Linked DNA regions of Homo sapiens: all the other regions are linked to region 4. The links come from fine-mapping of genetic effects on gene expression. A gene starts in region 4. Each other region holds a variant in brackets. All regions are shown on one strand. Distances are from middle to middle. Region 1 overlaps LOC105374359 (a long non-coding RNA gene). Region 2 has its middle 24 kb from the start of NSG1. Region 3 overlaps STX18 (syntaxin 18). Region 4 holds the start of NSG1 (neuronal vesicle trafficking associated 1).

What was found. PIP is the estimated chance that this variant, and not a neighbour inherited with it, causes the effect.
Region 1: its variant is the best candidate, but not a certain one, in a credible set for the expression of NSG1 in left ventricle (GTEx, PIP 0.77).
Region 2: its variant is the best candidate, but not a certain one, in a credible set for the expression of NSG1 in whole blood (INTERVAL, PIP 0.72).
Region 3: its variant is the best candidate, but not a certain one, in a credible set for the expression of NSG1 in whole blood (TOPMed, PIP 0.85).

The regions. Positions count from the first base shown.
Region 1 is chr4:3,988,923-3,994,191 of GRCh38, reverse strand. The region is part of intron 1 of LOC105374359 (a long non-coding RNA gene); the gene reads right to left. Among named protein-coding and RNA genes, the nearest start is that of ADRA2C, 230 kb to the right of the region's middle. The variant G/A (reference allele first, on the strand shown) is at 2,800.
Region 2 is chr4:4,360,514-4,365,782 of GRCh38, reverse strand. No RefSeq gene overlaps it. Among named protein-coding and RNA genes, the nearest start is that of NSG1, 24 kb to the left of the region's middle. The variant C/T (reference allele first, on the strand shown) is at 2,693.
Region 3 is chr4:4,419,634-4,424,733 of GRCh38, reverse strand. It overlaps STX18 (syntaxin 18), which reads left to right. Exons shown (of 11, transcript NM_016930.4): 9 at 1,147-1,216; 10 at 3,790-3,870; 11 at 4,605-5,100. The coding sequence ends at 4,700. Among named protein-coding and RNA genes, the nearest start is that of NSG1, 35 kb to the right of the region's middle. The variant C/T (reference allele first, on the strand shown) is at 2,864.
Region 4 is chr4:4,384,671-4,389,939 of GRCh38, reverse strand. NSG1 (neuronal vesicle trafficking associated 1) reads right to left here and starts at 2,838. Exons shown (of 5, transcript NM_014392.5): 1 at 2,767-2,838; 2 at 2,182-2,336. The coding sequence starts at 2,310.

The sequences.
Region 1 (5,269 bases), 400 kb after region 4:
GTGCAGTGGCTGATGCCTGTAATCCCAGCACTTTGGGAGACCGATGTGGGTGGATCACTTGAGCCCAGGAATTTGAGACCAGCCTGAGCAACATAGGGAGACCCCCATCTCTAAAATAAATAAATATAAATAAAAGTGACTAGAATTGATTATAGAACATCAACTCGATTTGAGTCTATAAAGATTCCTGGTGAAGGGGGGCAATGGGGAGAAGGAGAAAGAGAATATATTTGTGACCTAGATTATTTTCCTTAGTTTTGAGAGAATGTTCGGGTCTCCTGGGTCTTCTAGCCCAGTATTTATTTTTATTTTTTATTTATTTATTTATTATTTTTTTTAGATGGAGTCTCACTCTGCCACCAGACTGGAGTGCAGTGGTGCGATCTCGGGCCACTGCAACTTCCGTCTCCCAGGATCAATCTATTCTCCTGTCTCAGCCCCCCAAGTGGCTAGGACTACAGGTACCTGCCACTTCACCCAGATAATTTTTTTTTTTTTTTTTGAGACCGAGTCTGGCTCTGTTGCCCAGGCTGCGGTGCAGTGGTGCAATCTCGGCTCACTGCAAGCTCCACCTCCCAGGTTCATGCCATTCTCCTCCCTCAGCCTCCCGAGTAGTTGGGACTAAAGGCACCTGCCACCACGCCCGGCTAATTTTTTTGTATTTTTAGTAGAGGCAGGGTTTCACCGTGTTAGCCAGGATGGTCTCGATCTCCTGACCTCATGATCTGCCCGCCTCAGCCTACCAAAGTAGGCATTACTGTAATCAAGGATTACAGGCATGAGCCACTGTGCCCAGCCGCACCCAGCTAATTTTTGTATTTTTTGTAGAGATGGTGTTTCACCATGTTGATCAAGGCTGGTCTCGAACTCCTGATCTCAGGTGATCCGCCCGCCTTGGCATCCCAAAATACAAGGATTACAGGCATGAGCCACCACACCCTGCCTATTTTCCTTAGTTTTCAGAGAACCTTTGTGTCCCCTGGGTGTTCTAGCCCAGTATATCTCAAACTTTGCTGCACCGAGGACCTTGTTGAAATGCAGGTTCTCATCTGGGAGGCTCAGTGGGCCAGCAAATCTGCATTGGTTTAGGAAGCTCACCCTGAGTATCAAGCTTCAGTGAGGACCAGGCAGTCCCCTGCCTGCCAACCCCCTCTCAGCTGGGCTTAACTCTCGCTCTCTCCTGCCAGGGTTCCTCCCCTCAAAATAGGAGCTATTTTCAAAAAGTCTCTTGGAAAAAAAGCCCTGTTTTAAAATTGGGGTGTTCAGGATTGGCCATCTGCTCACCATGGGGTTTTAAGACCTTTGCCCAGACCCCTGCAACCAACTTAGAACTGACCTCTTTACTCTTGAAGGCCCGACTCCACACCATATTAAATTCATTAAAATCCACCCCCATTACAGGCATATCTCAGGCATCACGCCCTCAGAACGGAGTTGCAGCTGATCCCTTGACAGTGTTGTAAAGCATTAAACATGCGTTCATTTCAGCCTTGCAGTTTGCACATTTAGCAGCCAATTGTCTTGGGTCTAAAGCATTCATGTCCAAGCATTGTTATGGGCCCCAGACACTATGCTTCCCAGCCTCAATGGCCTCTGCAATGCTGGTTCCTACTGCCCCACCCCTGGGTTCTGGCCGGCTAGCCCGCGCCACCTCACTGCTCCCCCATTCAAGTGTGCCTTAAATGTGTGGTTTCCAAACTCATCTACACTTTAGGGTCACCTGGGATTTTTTTTTAAGTCTTCCAAAACCCAGGCCACACCGAAGAACAATTGAACCCTAACCTCCGGAATGGGACATAGCATCCGTTTTTTGTTTTGTTTTGTTTTTGAGACAGGGCCTCGCTCTGTTACCCAGGCTGGAGTGCAGTGGCACAATCATAGCTCACTACAGCCTCCAACTCCTGGGCTCAAGCAACACTACCACTTCAACCTCCACGGTAGCTGGGATCACAGGCGGGCACCACCACGCCTGGCTAATTTTTAAATTTTTTATAGAGACAGTATCTCCCTATGTTCTCCAGGCTCGTCTCAAACTCCTGAGCTCAAGCGATACTCCCGCCTCAGCCTCCCAAACTGCTGGGATTATAGGCATGAGCCACCATGCCTGGACATCAGCATCTGTATTTTTTGAAGCACAGATGAGTTTGGGAACTACCGCCCTAGACTGAGCTCGGTTTCCTAGCCCTGTCTGACCGTAGGATTCGGCTGGGCTGCTTCTGAAAACAGAGCTCCCCAGGCTTCTTCCCAGGTAATTCTGATTCATTAGGTCTGGGTTGGGCCCCGGAATGTGCGTTTTTTATGAGATCCCTCTGGATGAATCAGGCTAAAGCCAGTTTGGGATCTGAGACCTTGGAGATCATTCCCCAGCCTCCCTCCTAACCCAGTTCCCAGCTTGGCCCACCTCACCCAGGCTGTGTCACCTCTGACTTCGTAGATTACACCTGAGAGGGAAGCCCCAGCCATCACAATGTGAGAATATTTTACAATGACCAGGATATGCCAAATACATTTTAAAACTCATTCAGGATTAGCGTTCACCTTAAACTTGACAGACTCTGAGAACGGGCTGGCCACGTGCTGTGCACAACCCTTAGTGCTCTTCTGTGACTAATATTTGGATAATTGATAGTTGGAAGCTCAGGAAGCCTCTCTCTCTCTCCGAGGGGTCGAAGTTAACTTCCTTATTTCTGAGGTAGGGAAGAAAATGAGGATGTTCTGCCTTTTGCCAGACTGAATACTGTCCTCCAAAAATTCACATTCACCAGGAATCCCAGAATGTGGCCTTATTAGAAAATAGGG[G/A]CAAGACATGGTGGCTCATGCTTGTAGTCTTAACACTTTGGGAGGCTGAGGCAGGAGGATCACTTGAGGTCAGGAGTTCAAGACCAGCCTGGCTAGCATGGCAAAACCCTGTCTCTACTAAAAACACAAACATTAGCTAGGCATGGTGGCATGCACCTGTAATCCCAGCTACTTTGGAGGCTGAGGCTGAAGAATCACTTGAACCCAGGAGGCAGAGTTGCAGCGAGCTGAGATTGTGTCACTGAACTCCAGCCTGGGCAACAGAGCAAGGCTCCATCTCAAAAAAAAAGAAAAGAAAATAGGGTCACTGCAGATCTAATTACAAAGAGGTCATATTGGAATAGCGTGGACCTTAAATCCAGTAATAATGGCATCCTCATGGAAAGATAAGAAGAGACAGAGACACACAGGGGAGAAGGCCACGTGAGAATGAAGGAAGAGAATGGAATGATGTGGCCACAAGCCAAGGATTGCCAGCAACCACCAGAAGCCAGAAGAGGCAAGGAAGGATTCATCCCTAGAGCCTTCAGAGGGAGCACGGCCCTGCCCGTTTCAGACACCAAGCTTCTGGAACTGGAGAGAATGACTTTCTGTTGTCCTGAGCCACCCATTTGGGGAACTTTGTTAGAACAGTCACAGCCAGCTCATGTGCTCCTGAATGCATCTCAGGCATTAATAAGCACTGTCTTGGCCAGTCAGGGTGGCTCACCCCTGTAATCCCAGCACTTTGGGAGGCAGAGGTGGGTAGATCACCTGAGGTCAGGAGTTCGAGACCAACCTGACCAACATGGAGAAACCCCATCTCTACTAAAAATACAAAAATTAGATGGGCGTGGTGTTGTGCACCTGTAATCCCAGCTACTTGGGAGGCTGAGGCAAGAGAATCACTTGAACCCTGGAGGCAGAAGTTGCAGTGAGCCGAGATTGCGCCATTGCACTCCAGCCTGGGCAACAAGAGCGAAACTCTGTCTCAAAAAAAAATAATAAGTACTGTCTTGACTGTGGTCATCAAAAATATTTGATGAAGGGTTAGCTAGAAAGCCTGACCCTTTCACAGATGGACGGAAGGGCCAAAAGAAAATAGATTGTTTGCAGTGGGGCAAGAAGGATAAGAATCCTATGGAAAGAAAAACAGAGGGATTTGTTTAGTGAGCGCTGGGGAGAGACATTTGTTTTCTTGCTTAAAAAAGAAACACAGGTGGGGTGCGGTGGCTCAAGCCTTAATCCCAGCACTCTCGGAGGCCAAGGTGGGTGGATCACCTAAGGTCAGGGGTTTGAGACCAGCCTGGCCAACAACATGAAACCCCATCTCTACTAAAAAGACAAAAACAAAAGAAAGAAAGAAATTAGCCAGACATGGTGGTGAGCGCCTGTAATCCCAGCTACTCGTGTGGCTGAGGCAGAGAACCACTTGAACCTGGGAGGCAGAGGTTGCAGTAAGCCAAGATGGCATCGTTGCACTCCAGCCTAGGAAACAAGAGTGAAACTCTGTCTCAAACAAAAAAAAGAAAGAAAGAAAGAAAAAAAAAACATAGTTTTAAGTCCACTCAGTGGAGTTTAAAAATACATTCTCGTTGCACAGTGCTTTTGGAATCTTTTCTAAACTTCTGTTGCACATGATCTAATTTGATCTTCATAGCAACTCCCTGAGGTGGATAGGGCAGGCCTTTCTGAACACCAATTTTCTACTTTGCATTAAAAGAACGGAATTGGCTGGGACCAGTGGCTCATGCCTATAATCCCAGCACTTTGTGATACAGAAGGGAAGTGCTCGGAAGGGAAGAATGTGGTCCCTTTAAATGATATGGAAGTGAGGAAGGGAAGTACTGGGTAGAGGAGGGTGTGGTCCCTGGCTAGGGCTTCACCACAGGGCCTGTGCCCATGGACCTAGGTGAGGACAGGGATTTTTGTTTTCCCGCCCAAATGTTGCATTTCCCAAGACCACCCTGGCTGCCACACCCCCATTCTGTGCCTATAAAAACCCTGAGACCCTAGCAGGCAGACACACAGGCAGCTGGACTTCGAGAGGAGCACATCAGCGGAGGAACACAAGGGCGCTGGACATCAAGAGGAACGCACCAATGGGCACCGGCACACCGCAGGCCACTGACTGCAGAACAACGCAGTTTGGCTGGGACAGTCAGAGAAGAGTCAGGCCACTCGCCCGAATCCAGGGGTAAACCACCTCCCTTCTGGCTCCCCCATCTGCTGAGAGATACTTCCACTCAATAAAACCTTGCGCTCTCACGCCTGTAATTCCAGCACTTTGGGAGGCCGAGGCGGGCAGATCACGAGGTCAGGAGATCCAGACCATCCTGGCTAACACAGTGAAACCCCATCTCTACTAAAAATACAAAAAAATTAGCCGGGCGTGGTGGTGGGTGCCTGGAGTCCCAGCTACTCGGGAGGCTGAGGCAGGAGAATGGCATGAACCCGGAAGGCGGAGCTTGCAGTGAGCTGAGATTGCACC
Region 2 (5,269 bases), 24 kb after region 4:
GATGTTGGGAAGATGAAGTTAGAATCATCCATGTGGCTGGCACATAGTAAGAGCCCAGTGTCAGCTGTGAGTTTTAATCTTGTGCTAACCCATCAGAGACTGTGCCCCTGGCATTTCTTTTCTCCAGGCATTCTCAGCACCTCCAACTGTTTTTACCTAGCTGTACCTTCCTGTCTAACCTTGTACCTTCAGGGTCACCCCAGGTAAGACATGTGCTTCTTCATCAATGTGCCCTTTCTGGTGTGAGTCCTGAACTGGCCCAGGATTCAGATTCTGCATGAGAGGTGAGGTGTGCAGACACGATGCTCTGGGGGTGCCTGAGAATTGCCACCAGGAGGTTATTCATGAGGTCTCCAGACAGAAGGGCCCTGAGGAAGGGCAGGGAGAACATTCCAGAAGGAGCAGCCCCTTGGCACATCTAAGCAGGGCTAGATGGGGCACGTGGGAAGGTGAGGAGCTGATGTTGCCAAGGGAAGCAGAAGCTTTTAATGGCGGCTGTGTTTGGCTGCAACATGGCCCCCAAGGTTATCCCCGTCCAAATCTGCATAACCTATGGCTGTTACCTTATATGCCAAAAGGGACTTTGCAGCTGAGACCAAGCTAAACGTTTTTGGGTGTAAAGCTTATTCTAGGTTATCGGATGACCCCTGAATGTAATCACAGGTGTCCCTATAAGAGGGAGGTTTGATGCAGAAGAAAAACTGGAGCAAGATGTGACGCTGCTGCCTTTGAAGATGGAGGAAGGAGTTGCCACCTGAGGAATGCGAGGAATGTGAAGAAAGCAGTTCCCGGAGCTGGAAATGGATTCTCCCAGGGCCTCAGGAGTGCAGCCCTGCCAACACCTTGCCTTAAGCCCCATGAAACTCATTTCAGGTCTCTGCCCTCCAGAACTGCAAAAGTTGCTCTCATTTTAAGCCACTGAATGTGTGCTAATGAATTTGTTACAGCAGCCACAGGACACTGATACACAAGGTTAAGTGATATAGTTTGGCTGTGTCCCCACCCAAATCTCATCTTGAATTCCCATGTGTTCCAGGAGGGACCTGGTGAGAGGTAATTGAATCGTGGGGGCGGGATTTTCCCATGCTGTTCTCATGATCATGAGTCTCACAAGATCTCATAGTTCTATAAAGAGACATTCCCCTGCACAAGCTCTCTCTCTCTTTGCCCGCTGCCATCCACGTAAGATGTGACTTGCTCCTCCTTGCCTTCTGCCATGATTGTGAGGCCTCCACAGCCATGTGGAACTGTAAGTCCAATAAACCTCTTCCTTCTGTAAATTGCCCTGTCTTGGGTATGTCTTTATCAGCAGCATGAAAATTGACTAATAAACTAGGGAATTTTTAACTTTCTCCCAAGCATACATAACCTAGTGAAGAGTTTTGAGCAGGGATGTTTAAAAATACAGTGTATTCATAGGACATCTGAAGTCCCTGAAGGCCCACAGATCACAAGACGCCTGCCAATAAAAAGATTGTTTGTCACTCACAGTTTCCAAGAGGAGGCGGCAGGCCATGCCTGGGGCCACACAGGAAGATGGGCACAGTCACGAGGAGGAGGCAAAGGGGAGAGCAGTGAGTGGGCACTTTGACTGTGGTTGCTGTGGGACAGAACCAGCAAGAAAGGTAGGCAGGCTTAGGATTGGCCAGTTTGAATAATTAAAGCTGCTCCAGGGCACAAGGCTGTCCCTACTAATCTGGTACCTGCCCTGAGCTGATGAGGACAGGTAGATGTGGCTGGAGCAGTAGAGCCTAGAAAAACAGGTGGCTGCAGCGTGGACTCTGGGTTGGTTGGTTTGTATTTGAAAAGTGCCTCTACCCAGAAGAGGACTCCTCTGAGGAGTGGGGGAGGTGACGAGGGAGGCAGGAGGTCAGGCACGGTGACTTAAGCACATTATCAGGTTGTTCAGAACAAGGCCTTTCTGGCCCATGCATGGAGGATGGATGTCAACGAAGTGTCAAGTTCACAGAGGCTAGAAACACAGGTGACGCCGGGTGTAATGCATTCAGGCTTGTCTCAGCAAAATCACCATTGTAGCAGGGTGCAGAGACCCCCTCTGGCGGCTGAGCAGGCACAGAGGGCTGTGTATTCAGTAGGTGCATATATCAACCCTCCTGCACCCTCTGTCCCCTCCCAGCCCCTCCAGAGCTGCCTTTCCCCTCCCTGCCCCAGTCTGTGCTCTGCCCACACTGCTGTCTCGTGGGTGCCCCCCAGCGCCCAGCAGCCCTTTCCTTCCGCATGAGCTCCTGCCCATCCCTTGGGGCCAGTGTGGATGCTACTCTCCCCTGGAGAAATCAGCCCCGACAGCACCCGCTGTGCATACACGGCGCTCCCCGTGCATTCACCACGTGCTCCCTGCCATGCTGGGCACTTCTCACCGATCACTGGGTTGGCTCTGATGCAACTGCCAACATCCAGTCATTTTTGACCTACAAAAAGTGGCGATTTAATACGGTTCGACCTAAATCCTTCAGTTAATCCTCAGAATAATTGTGTAAGTTAGGGACGCTTTACCAGTGAGGAAACTGAGACTGAGATGATTTGGAAATTCAGTCACAAAGCTCACATTCATTTTCTGTGGCTGCCATGACACATACCACAGCTTGCATGGGTTAAAACAACACAGATGTATTTTCCCACAGTTCTGAAGGCCAGAAGTCTGAAATCACAGTGGCAACAGGGCTGCTGCCTC[C/T]GACTGCTCTAGGAGAGAATCCATGCTGGCCTCTTCCAGGCCTTCTCTTTGGTCTCAAATCTCCCTCCGCCTTTCTCTTGCAGGGACCCTGTCACTGTATTTGGGATCCACCTGTATGATCCAGGCTGATCTCTGGAGATCCTTCACTGAATTGTATCTGCAAAACCCTATTGCCAAATAAGGTAGCTAATATGGTTAAGCTCTGTGTCCCCACCCAAATCTCATCTTGAATTGTAATAATCCCCATGTATCAAGGGTGGGACCAGGTGGGGATCATTGAATCATGGGGGCAGTTTCCCCCATGCTGTTCTCGTGATAGCAAGTGAGTTCTCATGAGATCTGATGGTTGTTTTCTGTTTGTTTGTTTGTTTGTTTGTTTGAGACAGAGTCTCACGCTGTTACCCAGGCTGGAGTGCAGTAGCGCAATCTCGGCTCACTGCAACCTCCGCCTCCCAGGTTCAAGCAATTCTCCTGCCTCAGCCTCCCAAGTAGCTGGGATTACAGGCATGGGCCAACACACCTGGCTAATTTTTATAGTTTTAGTAGAGACGGGGTTTCGCCATATTGACCAGGCCGGTCTCAAACTCCTGACCTCAGGTGATCTGCCCGCCTCGGCCTCCCAAAGTGCTGGGATTACAGGTACGAGCCACAGCACCTGGCCTAAGATCTGATGGTTTTTTAAAGGGCTTCCCCCTTTGCTAGGCTCTTACTCTTCTTCCTGCCACCATGTGAAGAAGGATGTGTTTGTTTCCCCTTCTACCATGATTGTAAGTTTCCTGAGGCCTCCCCCGCCATGTGGAACTGTGAGTCCATTAAACCTCTTTCCTTTATAAATTACCCAGTCTCAGGCGGTCCTTCACAGCAGCGTGAGAACAGACTAACACAGTGGCACTCGCAGGTTCTGGGGACTCGAGCACGGACACATCTGTTTAGGGGCCACCATTCAACCCACTACAGCTCATAAGTGGTGTCATCAGCTGAGCCCAGGGTGTCTACAGCCACAAGGCTGGTGTGCGGTTAGGGCTTGCTTTTGTACCACTTCCCCACCTGACACTGTGTCTGTGTAACACCTGCCCAGCCCCCACATATGGGCTTGGCTTTGGTCACGTCCAAGCTCCAGATCCTAAATCATCTGGAAGCCTCTTTCTTACCCTCCTGAGTGTTTCCCCACATGTTCAACACACACTCAGGAGGGTTTTCTTACGTCTTTAATTTCTCAGCACAAAACAAGTCTAAAAATAAGCACTCACTGCTTCTTGTCAAATAAATTCTGAAAACCATGTGTAGGAAGGGCCTGTGTTGACAAGGGTATGAATATCCTGGTGGCTGATGTCAAATGGGGCAGTTCCATGTGCTGAGTTCTGTGCAGGACAAAAAGCTGACACTGGCCGAATCTTGCCGTGGGCAGCTTACCCGTGAGCCACTGTGCACAGCCCACACAGAATTAGCTGTGAACCCTGAAAATCTGAGGCAGGTCTCAGTTAATTTAGAAAGTTTATTTTGCCAAGGTTGAGGACACACGCCTGTGACGCAGCCTCAGGAGGTCCTGACGACATGTACCCAGGGTGGTCAGAGCACAGTTTGGTTTTATACATTTTAGGGAGATATGAGCCATCAATGAACATATGTAAGATTAACATTGGTTTGGTCCGGAAAGGTGGGACAACTGGAAGCAAAAACGGGACAACTCAAAGTGGGGAGGGGGTTTCCAGGTCCTAGGTAGATAAGAGACAAACAGTTGCATTCTTTTTTTGTTTGTTTTTTCTTTGAGATGGAGTTTTGCTCTTATTGCCCAGGCTGGAGTGCAATGGCGCAATCTCGGCTCACCACAACCTCAGCCTCCCAGGTTCAACTGATTCTCCTGCCTCAGCCTCCCGAGTAGCTGGGATTACAGGCATGCACCACTATGCCCATCTAATACTGTAGTTATAGTAGAGACAGGGTTTCTCCATATTGGTCAGGCTGGTCTTGAACTCCTGACCTCAGGTGATCCGCCCGCCTCAGGCTCCTAAAGCGCTGGGATTACAGGCATGAGCCACTGCACCTGGCCTGGTTGCATTGTTGTGAGTGTCTAATTAGCCCCTCCAAAGGAGGCAGTCAGATATGCATTTATCTCAGTGAGCAGAGGGGTGACTTGGAATAGGATGGGAGGCACGTTTGCCCTAAGCAGTTCCCAGCCTGACCTTTCCCTTTAGCTTAGTGATTTTGGGGCCCCAAGATTTCTTTTCCTTTCACATAGCAGCTGTCTAGAGTGAGAGAGCTGAGTGGGGAAACCATTTCGAGGACAGAAACCAAGACGTTGTTTCCTCCTGACCTCACTGGATCCCCCTCAGTGCTCTTTCGCAAAAGTATTATTATTCCCACTTTAAGGAAGAAGGCAGTGGTTCAGAGAGAGTGTAACTGCAATAGGCTCGTTGCCCGGTGTGCGTGGCAAACCAGCATGCCAGGACATGGGGTGGCAGCAGAGGAAGAGGTTCCATTGTAGGGCCACCAAACGAGGAGATGGAAGGACAAATTCATCTCCCCAGGGAGTTTGGGGCTGGGGTTTTTCAGGGTTTTGGAGTGCACCGACGTGTG
Region 3 (5,100 bases), 35 kb before region 4:
TGCAGAAGGCAAGGCCTTGGTCACTCACACATGCACCCGTTAGCCTCTAGTTTCTGTGGGAAGGCTTGGAGCATGCTGAAAGTAAGGCCCAGGACTTTGCAGAGCCTGTTGTATTGTGGACATGTCCCCCAAATAAAATCAATCCTGATGCTGCACTCACACAGCCTGAGGACTTTCTCAGTGTAGGTGTCAGCCTCCAAGGGGCTCTTCGCCTTCTGCCCTCAGAGATGGACCTCCTAGTCCTCCTCTGACAGCCTAGCTTTCACTGTCTGCCCCACTACCGCCCCCACCCCGCTACTCCCCCATGCCCAGATACTCACTGGCTTTTCTTCCCACATCTCCTCCCCTGCCCCCTGCCACTGTGATACTGTTGGGATTCATCACTGCTTCCACCTGGCCAGGAGCTCAGCTCCCACCACTTTTTGCCTCCTGTCACTTCCTGTCGCTGCTTTGTGCTGGAACAGCAGTTGACTTCAGCTTGGGCCAGCTTCTGTTTCTAAATAGATGTGCCCCCACCCGCCCCCCAGGGTAGCCCATGCTGCCCCTGACACCAGGAAGATGGCTAGCCCAAGTGTTTCAGATCCGACAGAACACTCCGTTGCCAAACCAAGACATGGCATTTTCTAAATGAATCAGAGGAGCTTTTTTCTTGGAACAGGGAGTTGGTTTGAAGGTAAATACACTTTTTTCTTTAACCTGCTGAGCATTAACAAAGCTGGATCATCAGCATATTCTGACCTTCTGAATCCCCACCATGTGTTACCATGGTGATGAGGCTAGGCAGAGAACTTACTGGAGACTGCTTTCTGTAACTGGGGCACAACCAGGCCCTCCCCATTCCCCGAGCAGTGACACAGAATGCAAAGGGCACTGCACACACCCACCTCTTGGGACTGAGGGTCAGTTGGCATGGTAGAGTGGACTTCCAAAAAGACCAGTGTGCTAGGCTATGCCAGAAGACAGGGAAGGTGACCCAGTAAGGAGAGTTCGCCTTCCTCTCCCATCTCCTCTTCCCCCAGCCGACACAGTGTGCCCCCTGTCTCTCCCACCTTCACGTAGAAGATAGGATTTCTTTAGAAGTGTGTAACAGTCCTGTTAGATTACCAAGTGCTAATAGTTAATATGTAATCTGTTCTTTTTATGAAGGCAAATCGAAGGGAGAGTGGTTGAGATTTCCAGACTCCAAGAGATATTCACGGAAAAGGTTTTGCAACAGGTAAAAAAACAAAAACAAAGGAGCTGTATGTTTTCACTCAAAGGGGAATGTACTTGAGAGCACGAGACATTTTTCCCAAAGGCTGCTGCTCTACACAGCCAGGAGCAGAGCCATGTGTTGCTAGCAGGTGTGTGTGCGCAGAGCTCCTCAGGGAAAAGCTCTCACTACCCAGAGCTGCCTCTGCACACGTGTGATGGAGGAGGAGCTCCCCACAGGGGACCCACTGACCACCCCATGTGGTAGCACATGCGGTGGCACGTGGGAGGAGAGTCCAGGCCTGGCAGTCAGGGTTCTGGATGTGCTGGGTAAGCTAGGTAGCCCCCACAAGCTACAGTTTCCCATCTATAGGAGGGAGGGACTCCTGCAGGGTTATTCTCTGTTTGAGAGATAACTGCAGAAGCATCCAGCACGATGCTGACGGGCAGTTGCTTTTCAGTCAGTAGGTTACAGGAGCTCAGACCCAGGCCTCTCACAACGCGCGGTCCATGCCACCTCAGGGATGGTGTCTGCGTGGGAAATAGGATTGTTCTTTTCAAGTGAATTTTCTGAAATTCTTCCAGCCAATAACTGGCAAAACTTTTCAAGACCTGATAAATTTGCCCTTTTATTTTTAGCATCCAAAGACTATGGGAACGTTTGAAAGACAAAATTTTCTCCAGTATTTTAAACTGGACTACTTGACTTAAGATACTTCACTCACAAAATGACTTTCCATAAACCACACAGCCAGAGTGAAATCATTGTAAATGAGGTACATTAAGTCTAACAGTGGTTTGCAAGTTCGGGTTCATAGGAGTCGCCCTTTTTAATAACACTACCCTGCTTCAAACCTCCCAGCGGCTCCAGGGGGCCTGGGAGGGGCGTGCAGAGCATAGGCAGAGCCTTGCCTTGGCTCACCGGGAGTTTCTTTTTCTTTTCTTTTTTTTTCTTTTTCTTTTTTTTTTTTTTGGAGACAGAGTCTTGCTGTGTCGCCCAGGCTGGAGTGCAATGTTGCTATCTTGGCTCACTGCAACCTCATCCTCCCAGGTTCAAGCGATTCTCCTGCCTCAGTCAGCCTCTTGAGTAGCTGGGATTACAGGCATGCCACCACGCCTGGCTAATTTTGGTATTTTTAGTAAAGACGGGGTTTCACCATCTTGGCCAGGCTGGTCCCGAACTCCTGACTTCAGGTGATCCACCTGCCTTGGCCTCCCAAAGTGCTGGGATTACAGACGAGAGCCACTGCGCCCGGCCCACTGGGAGTTCCTAAGTCCTGAGGAACAATGTGTCTTTCTTGTTTTTTCCATCAGTGTTGCATTGTAGTTCATATTGATTCTCTCATTGGAACCTTGGCAGTGGTCACTTAGTTCACACTTTGAGACTCTCTAAAAAGGGGTGATGATGAGGCAAAGCCATCCCAGTAATATTCATTGCTGGGAATCAGAGGCCACATGCTGCCTTCCTCCCTACAATGTGTCAGTCAGGTTTCTCTAAAAACCCACGCTAGCATTCATTCTGCCCTGACCCTGTTAGGAAGCAGCTTCACCACCACCGAAAGGAGGAGAGAAGCAGGCACTCCTGCTTGTAAGGACGTCTAGCACCGTCTCTGCTCCTGTGGGGCCAGACGCCCCCTGTGTTATCCCACGCTTCTCAAGCTTTTCAAGGCTT[C/T]GTTTGGAGTAAACGTTTTCTGTAAGCATCCTGCATCCTATTTTGATTTTTAAATTTTAGCCTGTTTTTTAAGAGATATGATGATAGTAAAACACAAAGCACTATTTTTGAAGCTAGCATATGTATTTCGAAGCACATACATTTTAAAGCTTACTTCTGTGGACTTCAGAAAGAAATGAGAGACTAGAAGGGAAGCCCCTGGCATATGGTGGCTGCTCCACAAACAATAGCTCTTAGGTTTTTGTCCGTCACCGGCGAGTGGCGCAGGAGGGATGGTAAGTGTGGCGGAAGGAGCACTGCAACAAGATGGGGTCTCAGCCCTGCGCGGTGGCTCATGCCTGTAATCCCAGCACTCTGGGAGGCCGAGGCGGGAGCATGGTGTGAGCTCAAGAGTTCAAGACCAGCCTGGGCAACATAGGGAGACCCCCCATCTCTACAAAAAATTTTAAAAATTTAGCCAGGCGTGGTGGCACATGCCTATACTCCCAGCTACTTGGGAGGCTGAAGTGGGAGGATCGTTTAAGCCCTGTCTCAAAAAAAAAAAAAGTCTCAGTCCTGCCACTTGGTTGCTGTGTGATGTGACTTTGGGCAAGTTAGTAAACTTCTCTGAGCCGTGAGTTTCCGTTTCATAAAATAGAGGTAATACCTACTTCTTGGGGTGCTGTGAGGATTTGTGGCTATGCAAGTAAAGCCGTTAGCCCTTGGTGACGGCTACTGTTCTTGTCATGATATACGCTTCAGGGAGGAGGAAGTGGCTGTATATGTCAAGCATCCCTAAACTTCAAAATGTGAAGTCCTAAGTGCTCCAAAATCTGAAACTTTCTGAGCGCTGACATGACACTCAAAGGAAATGCTCGTTGGAGCATTTTGGGTTTCAGGTTTTTGGATAAAGGATACTCAACTTGTATTTATCTTTTCTTCCACAGGAAGCTGAGATTGACAGCATTCACCAGTTAGTTGTGGGGGCAACTGAAAATATCAAGGAAGGCAACGAAGACATAAGAGAGGTAGGCACTGTTTAGGTTCCCCAGGTGCGACGTGGCGCAGCACTGAGTCCCAGCAGCGGGTGTTAGTCTCGCCGGCACAGCTGCCCAGGAGCCTTGCTGGGCAGAGCTCACGGGGCTGATCACAAAATTGTGTGACCGCGGAGCTGCGTGTGTTCATGAGACCCACCACCTGTCGCCCACCTCCAGCTGCTTTCGAGAGGCAGTGGCTCACCAGCCTCCAAAGGAGCAATCCAGGGTGGGTGGGGGTACTCCTGGCAGGGTCAGGCCAGCTCTTCATGTCCAGGGATGTACATGGGTAGCTCGTTGGCCCCCACCGAGGGGTCAGAGCCTGGCCCCTGCTTACAGAGGACACTACAGCCATCCTGTTGAGGGGACTGTTTCCCAAGCTCAGTCCTCAGGGTTGGGTCACCACGGACATCATGTTACTGGGAAACACAAAGCTTGCGGTCACACTCTGCTCGGGGCCCTTAACCCTGGGACAGAAGGGAGTGATTCCGAGAGTTGTGTTGAGGGAGAATTGTGCAGGACCCAAATGATGGCCAAACAGAGGGAAATATAACCCATTTGTCTTCTGGTGGATCTCAAAAGCCATCTATTCAAGGTAAGCACAGATGGAACGACACCCATAGTTACAGCCAGGATCAGGAGAGCACGTGGGAAGAGGGGGGCATTTCAGGGCTGCTCAAACCAAAATCCTGTGTGATAAAAACACCTGTGCTCCCGTCCCTGCCCAGGCCATTAAAAACAACGCTGGCTTCCGCGTGTGGATCCTCTTCTTCCTCGTGATGTGCTCCTTCTCCTTGCTCTTCCTCGACTGGTACGACAGCTAGCCAGGGCCACGGGGGCCCAGCACGAGAGTCCTCATGGGCACTCACAGACTGCGTGCTTTCATGTACTTCCAGTGCTGGAGCATGGTATGACCAGATTTTATCACAGTGCCATTTGAAGGGAAAGGAGTTCAGACAGACAGACGTATTCCCCAAAAAGGGATACCCCAGGCCGATGGTGTTCAGCCATTTAGCAGCTGAAAAAGGAAACAGTGCACACCAATGGGAGGCAGCCTGCGTAGCCCTCATCAGGCAAGACAGACTGAATGCAGGAGTGGGTGATTAGCTGCTCCTTGAACTTGAGGCTGCCTTGGCAGCAGGGGCACAGCAGGCCTCAAGAGCCCCTAATTGTCTCAGGGTTCAAAGGAAGACACTGACCTTTCCCATCCCGGTAGCTTCAGGG
Region 4 (5,269 bases):
GGGTAACATGGTAGTGACCTCATGGCATTATCAACACATTAAAAGAATTTAAACCTGTAAAACTGGCAGAATAGTTCCTGGTGCAGAATAAGTGTCTGGCAAATGTCAGGGGAGACCAGCCCTGACTCTGCTGCCAGCACTGTGACTGCTGTCACCGCTGCACCCCAGCACCTCAGCACTCCATACACGTTCTCAGAACAGATTCTCATTTATAACCCAACTGTGTCACCACCCCTCAGAAGCCATGTCACCTGAAACAGGTGACATCGCCTCCCTGAACTCTGACCGTTAGCAACACGTTGCTGTTGTTCAGGTTAAGAGAGGTCTTACGTGAGAGACATCTGGCTCCAAGCACAGTGGAGTAAGAGGCACTGCCAGAAACTTCTGCATCCTGGAGGACTGTAACCTTCAGCCCAGTGACCTTGGGTATGTCCCATAAATGCTCTGAGGCTCAGTTCCCTCATTGTGACCTTAGAAGCCTTCTGGAAAATGATCCCAAGAGCCATAACCCTTGTACCCACACTCAGTCCCGGCGGGAAGTCCGGGATGGAAGGTCTGGCTGGACCCGAGAAGAGCATCCCTGCTGGCTGCCCCGCTTCGGACGCTTGCAGAGAGAGCAGACTCATCACCTTTCCGAGCTGCCTAGGCTACTCCTGGTCGACCTAATTAGTTGGTGAGGATTTCATACCTGCCTGAAACCCTCCTCCCTGTATAAACCAACTGTGCCAAATGGTTCTGGAATGGAACAGACTGAGGACAAGAGAGGAGGCTCAGGCCAAGTGAGGGGAATCACCTGATAGAGGTGCTGCCTCAGGACACGGAGTTCCTGGCACAGGCGCCACTGCTCCTCAGCCGAGCAGCTGGGGGCCCAGGCAGGAGGGGGTGTGGGGGCCTCGGGGCCAGGCCCCGCTAACTGGACGAGTCTGATGCCTAGACAGGGAGGGGTGGAGTGGAAGCTGAGGCCTCAGGCAGCCCTGCCCCTCCTGCAAAGCCTAGCCTGGACCATCAGTGGCCCAGAGTGGCACCACCGTGGCCTGGGGGGCACAGGTGTGGCCGGCTGATCCCCCTTTCTTGAACTGAAACCCCCGCTGCCAGCCTCTTCCCGGCTCCTGCCTCCCTCCCCAGACGACACACACAATAAAGCTGGGAGGACACCTTCACAGGGGTCAGGGCCCCCACCAGGACACCCCCACCCCACAACACCCACCCCGTCAGCAATCACCAACTTGCTGGAACGAAGACAGAGCCCTGGCTCAGAGCCCCTTCACCAGGGACTAAATGAGAAAATAAATAGAAAAGCACTTCCGGGAATTATTCGTGGCTGTGGTGGTTCGTAAGCGGCAGCAAGATGCTGAGAGTAGATGCTGTGTCTATGGTCTTAGATGTGAATTTTACAGTACAATTGCCTAGACATGCAAAGATCTATTTACATTTTTAAGTGTTAACTCTTGGAAATATTATTCTTAGCAAACAGAAACTACTTAATTGGATGCTACATTCAAAAAGAGGAGATTCTTTAAATTCAGCAGAAAACACTTTGGGGAAAGGTTGATGAATGGTTTTTCCCAGTGACACCAATACTGAGCGAGCCCGGGCACTTATTTGGAGATTTCACAAAAGGAACAAAGAGGAAGGAGACCCTGTGTGAGCGCGCACACCCTCCTGCACCTAGCGCCAGCCTGGCAGGGGCAGGCAGAAAGGGCGAGAACAATTCAGCCCTGGGGAGGGGCCATCTGACCAAGGAGAACGCTCCCCCGCCTCGGTGGGGCAAGTCGGGCTGAACTGCCACACCCGGGAAGGTACAGGGGCAGCCTCGCCCGCCCCTAGGCTCACCCCCGATCCAGAGCCCCTGGGGCCACGGGGCAAGGGAGGAGCAGGGCAGCTGCGGGGCCAGGGCCCTCTCGGATGAGGCTCCCAGGAAAAACGCGAAGGAATCTTGCCCCACCGCGTTCCACTGTCAGGACGAGAATATCATCTAAGGCAGGGCTCCCCTCCCCCGCCCAGCATCCCGCGATCCAGAATCCCGCGCGGGTACACTGTCCTCGCCGCGCTCCCTCCGGCCTCCCGAGCCCGCCCCCACTTCGCGTACCCAGCGCACGCGGCGCGTTTCTTTTGTTGCGCCCGCCGTGCGAGATTTGGGGGTGCACACCCGGCAACGTGGAGGGGCGTGGGGGGGCTTACCTTATCCGGGGGCGGGAACTGCAGCTGATTGACATCGAGGGGCGTCATCAGGGGAATGGTGTCGAAGCCATCCTCCAGCAGCGGCTGCTTGGTGCCCTTCTCTGCGAAATTGTTCCCCAACTTCACCATCGTTCCGGGAGCTCCGAGGCTGCAGCCTGCGGCGGGAGGGCCGGGGGGAGTCACCACAAGCAAGACCCGGGGCGGGGCGGGGGGGAAGTGGGCACCCACACCCACCGGCGTCCCGGCGTCCGCGAGCTCCCCGGCCCCGCTTCGTCTCGGGGAGGGCTCGTGGGGACGCGGTGGTCACGGCCCGATGCGGGGGTCGGGTGGTGCTGTGTATTTCTAGACCCTCATCTCGCAGGACCCAAGCGCCGGGCGCAAGGGCGCACCGCGGCCAGGGAAGGGGGCGCCGCCCCTGCCCAGCACCTCCAGACCCGGTCCCCGGTCCTGGGGCCGCCGCACCCGGGCGACCCGCTGTTCACAGCCCCGTCCCGCGTACTCCGGGAGATGGGCATCCCCCGGGCACTGCTCCTGGGCGGGCAAGGTCTGGCCTCGGCAAGCCCAGGCGCGGCCGGCCGCACTCACCCACGCCCGGCTCCGGCAGGTCAGCTGAGCGCTCCGAGCTCCGCGTCTCCTGCTCCTGCTCGCAGCAATGGCGGAGGCGGCGCCGCGCGCGGACCCGGGAAGGGGAGCGAACGATTGGGCTCCACGGCCGCTCCCTCCTCCTCGCGCCGCCGCCTCCCTTCCTGCCTCTCCCGGGGGCTGGGTGCGCGCGGGTGGGTGCGCGCGTGTGGCCGCGCCTCCACCTTGACGCAGCGCCCGCCCGGCCGCACAAAGGAGTGCGGGGCTGGGCGGGAGCCTCCCCTGGGACCACGCGCCCGCCCTGAGCCGGGGGAGGGAACAGGGGAGCGGGAGAGGACGCGCCCCCAGGGGGTCTCGGAGCGGCGGAGGGCGCCCGGAGCGGGAGGGCTGCGGGCTGCGCCACCCCGGGCGGCGGCCTGGGCGCGAGGCGCTTAGAAAGGAGAAAGGGGAGGCGGGGACCGTAGGGACAGAGCGACCCCCAGGGGTGCGGGGAGGTGCAGAGAGGGTCCCCGCCCGCAGCGCGCCGCGCTCACCTGGGGGTCCTGAGGACGTTCAAGGGTTTGGGGGGATGGGTCCAGGAGGCGCTGGGTGGTGGCGGAGACCAGAGCAGGGTGCTCCTTAGTGCTGGGTTGGGGAGGGGGCGACCAAAAGAGGGCGCGTCCGCGTATAAAGGGGGCGCGGCCCGTAAAGGAGGCGCGGCCCGTAAAGGAGGAGGAGGTTTTCGGTGGTGCGGGAGGCGGAGTAGCGCTCTCCCAGGGCTGGGGTGTGGGCGCCCAGGGTGAGGCTGCCCCAGGCAGCGGGAGGGAAGTCGTTCTAGGCAAAGAGCGCTCAGTGCGCCGCTTGGAGGGAGGCGGAAAGGTTCCTCCGCTCTGGTTGGCAGAGAAGGTGGAGGTCCCACTGCAGCCGCCGCCCGAGCATCCTGGGCACAGAGGAGGGGCCGCTGGGACGATGCCCGGACGCGGAGAGAAGGGGGGTGGTTCTAGCCCGACCTGCGCCCCCAAACCCCGAGCTCAGCCGCTGTCGCGGCTTCCCAGAGAGGGTCCTGTTTGCAGACCTCCAACCCGTCCTGCCTGCAGGACTCACGGATGAAAGACTATGGGGTGTGGGGGCGAGGCCGAAATGGGAGTGGAGCCCGCGCGGGAGGAGGCCGGCTGCGGGGATCGGTGCCTCCTGGGCACCTGGGCCAGGAGCTGGGCCCTGTCAGGCGCTGGACGAGGAGGAGGCATCACCCAAATTCGATACTTTTTCACACCCTTTCCGGGGACTTCCCCGCGGCACTACGGAGGGTCCGGGGCGTTTTCCATCAGCCGTCTGAGAATCCTGGGAATAAGCCCAGAGCACAGGAGCAGCCACCGCCTTGAGCCCCAGGCACAGCCTGGGAACTTGCCGCGGGTGCCCTGATTTCAAAATCCCCAGGAGGGCTAGCCGTCTTTGACAGGTGACCTAGTGGGTATCTCGTAACTCGCCCCAACTCTCCAGCCAGGGTCTAAGTGTGCCTTTGACCACAGGCCAGCCTGGTCTGAACCCAGGCTCCTGGCAGAGGCACCCCGCCCCCAACCCAGGGAAAGCGGGTGTCAGACTCTGGCCCCTGCCACGGGCCTCGGGGACCCACAGAACCCACCTTTTTGGCACTTTGATGCCTCCCTGAAGCAGGTGAAGAAGAGAAGATTTCTCTTGCTCCACTTCAGAAATCTGCCCAGGCATCTGCCATGAGAGTGACCCACTGGTCAGGAGAAACCCTTTGGGCTTAAGCAAGGAAATGGCTTTCCCGCACCCCCCCCCGCCCCGCCCCCCGTCTCAGGCTCAAGCATTTAACAGAACCCAACACACACGCGCGCGCGCAAACACACACACACACACACACACACACACACACACACTTGGTCAGAATTCCACACCAGGAGGAACAAAGTGGAGGCCCTGCCCCTCCCTTAGAGACTCTGTCAACTGAGGAGGACAGAAAGGCAAGAAGGACCTAGGTTGTCCCAGAGATGGACGGTGAACAATCATGTTTCTCTGCTAGCTGGCCTTTTGTGCTGTCTTGGGTCTTCACTGGTGCTGGTCATTGGGACTGTTTCATCCTGTGGTTTTCTTCCTCTGCTGATTGTATCTGGGCCCTGTGAAGGGCATGGACAATGCAAAATGCATGAGACACAGCGCCACCCGCAGGGAGCTACGGACAAGGGCAAGTCTTTGCTGGGAGCAGTGGCCCTGTGGGAGAGTGGCCTCTGCCTCTTGCCAGGAGGGAGGACATCCAGAGACTGTGGGTAAAGACTGTGGATAAAGCTTCCTACAGGTGGGCCTGAGAGAGGTGCGTGCAGAGGGGAAGGCATTCCAGGTAGGAGAACAGAATGTGTTAAGACAGTATATGAGCTTCCTGCCACTGTTGGAACAAATTTGGCTTAAAACAATAGAAACATGTTCTCTCCTGGCTTTGGAGGCCAGAAGTCTAAAGTCTAGGTCCCAGCAGGGCCTCACTCCCTCTACAAGCCACAGAGAAGAACCT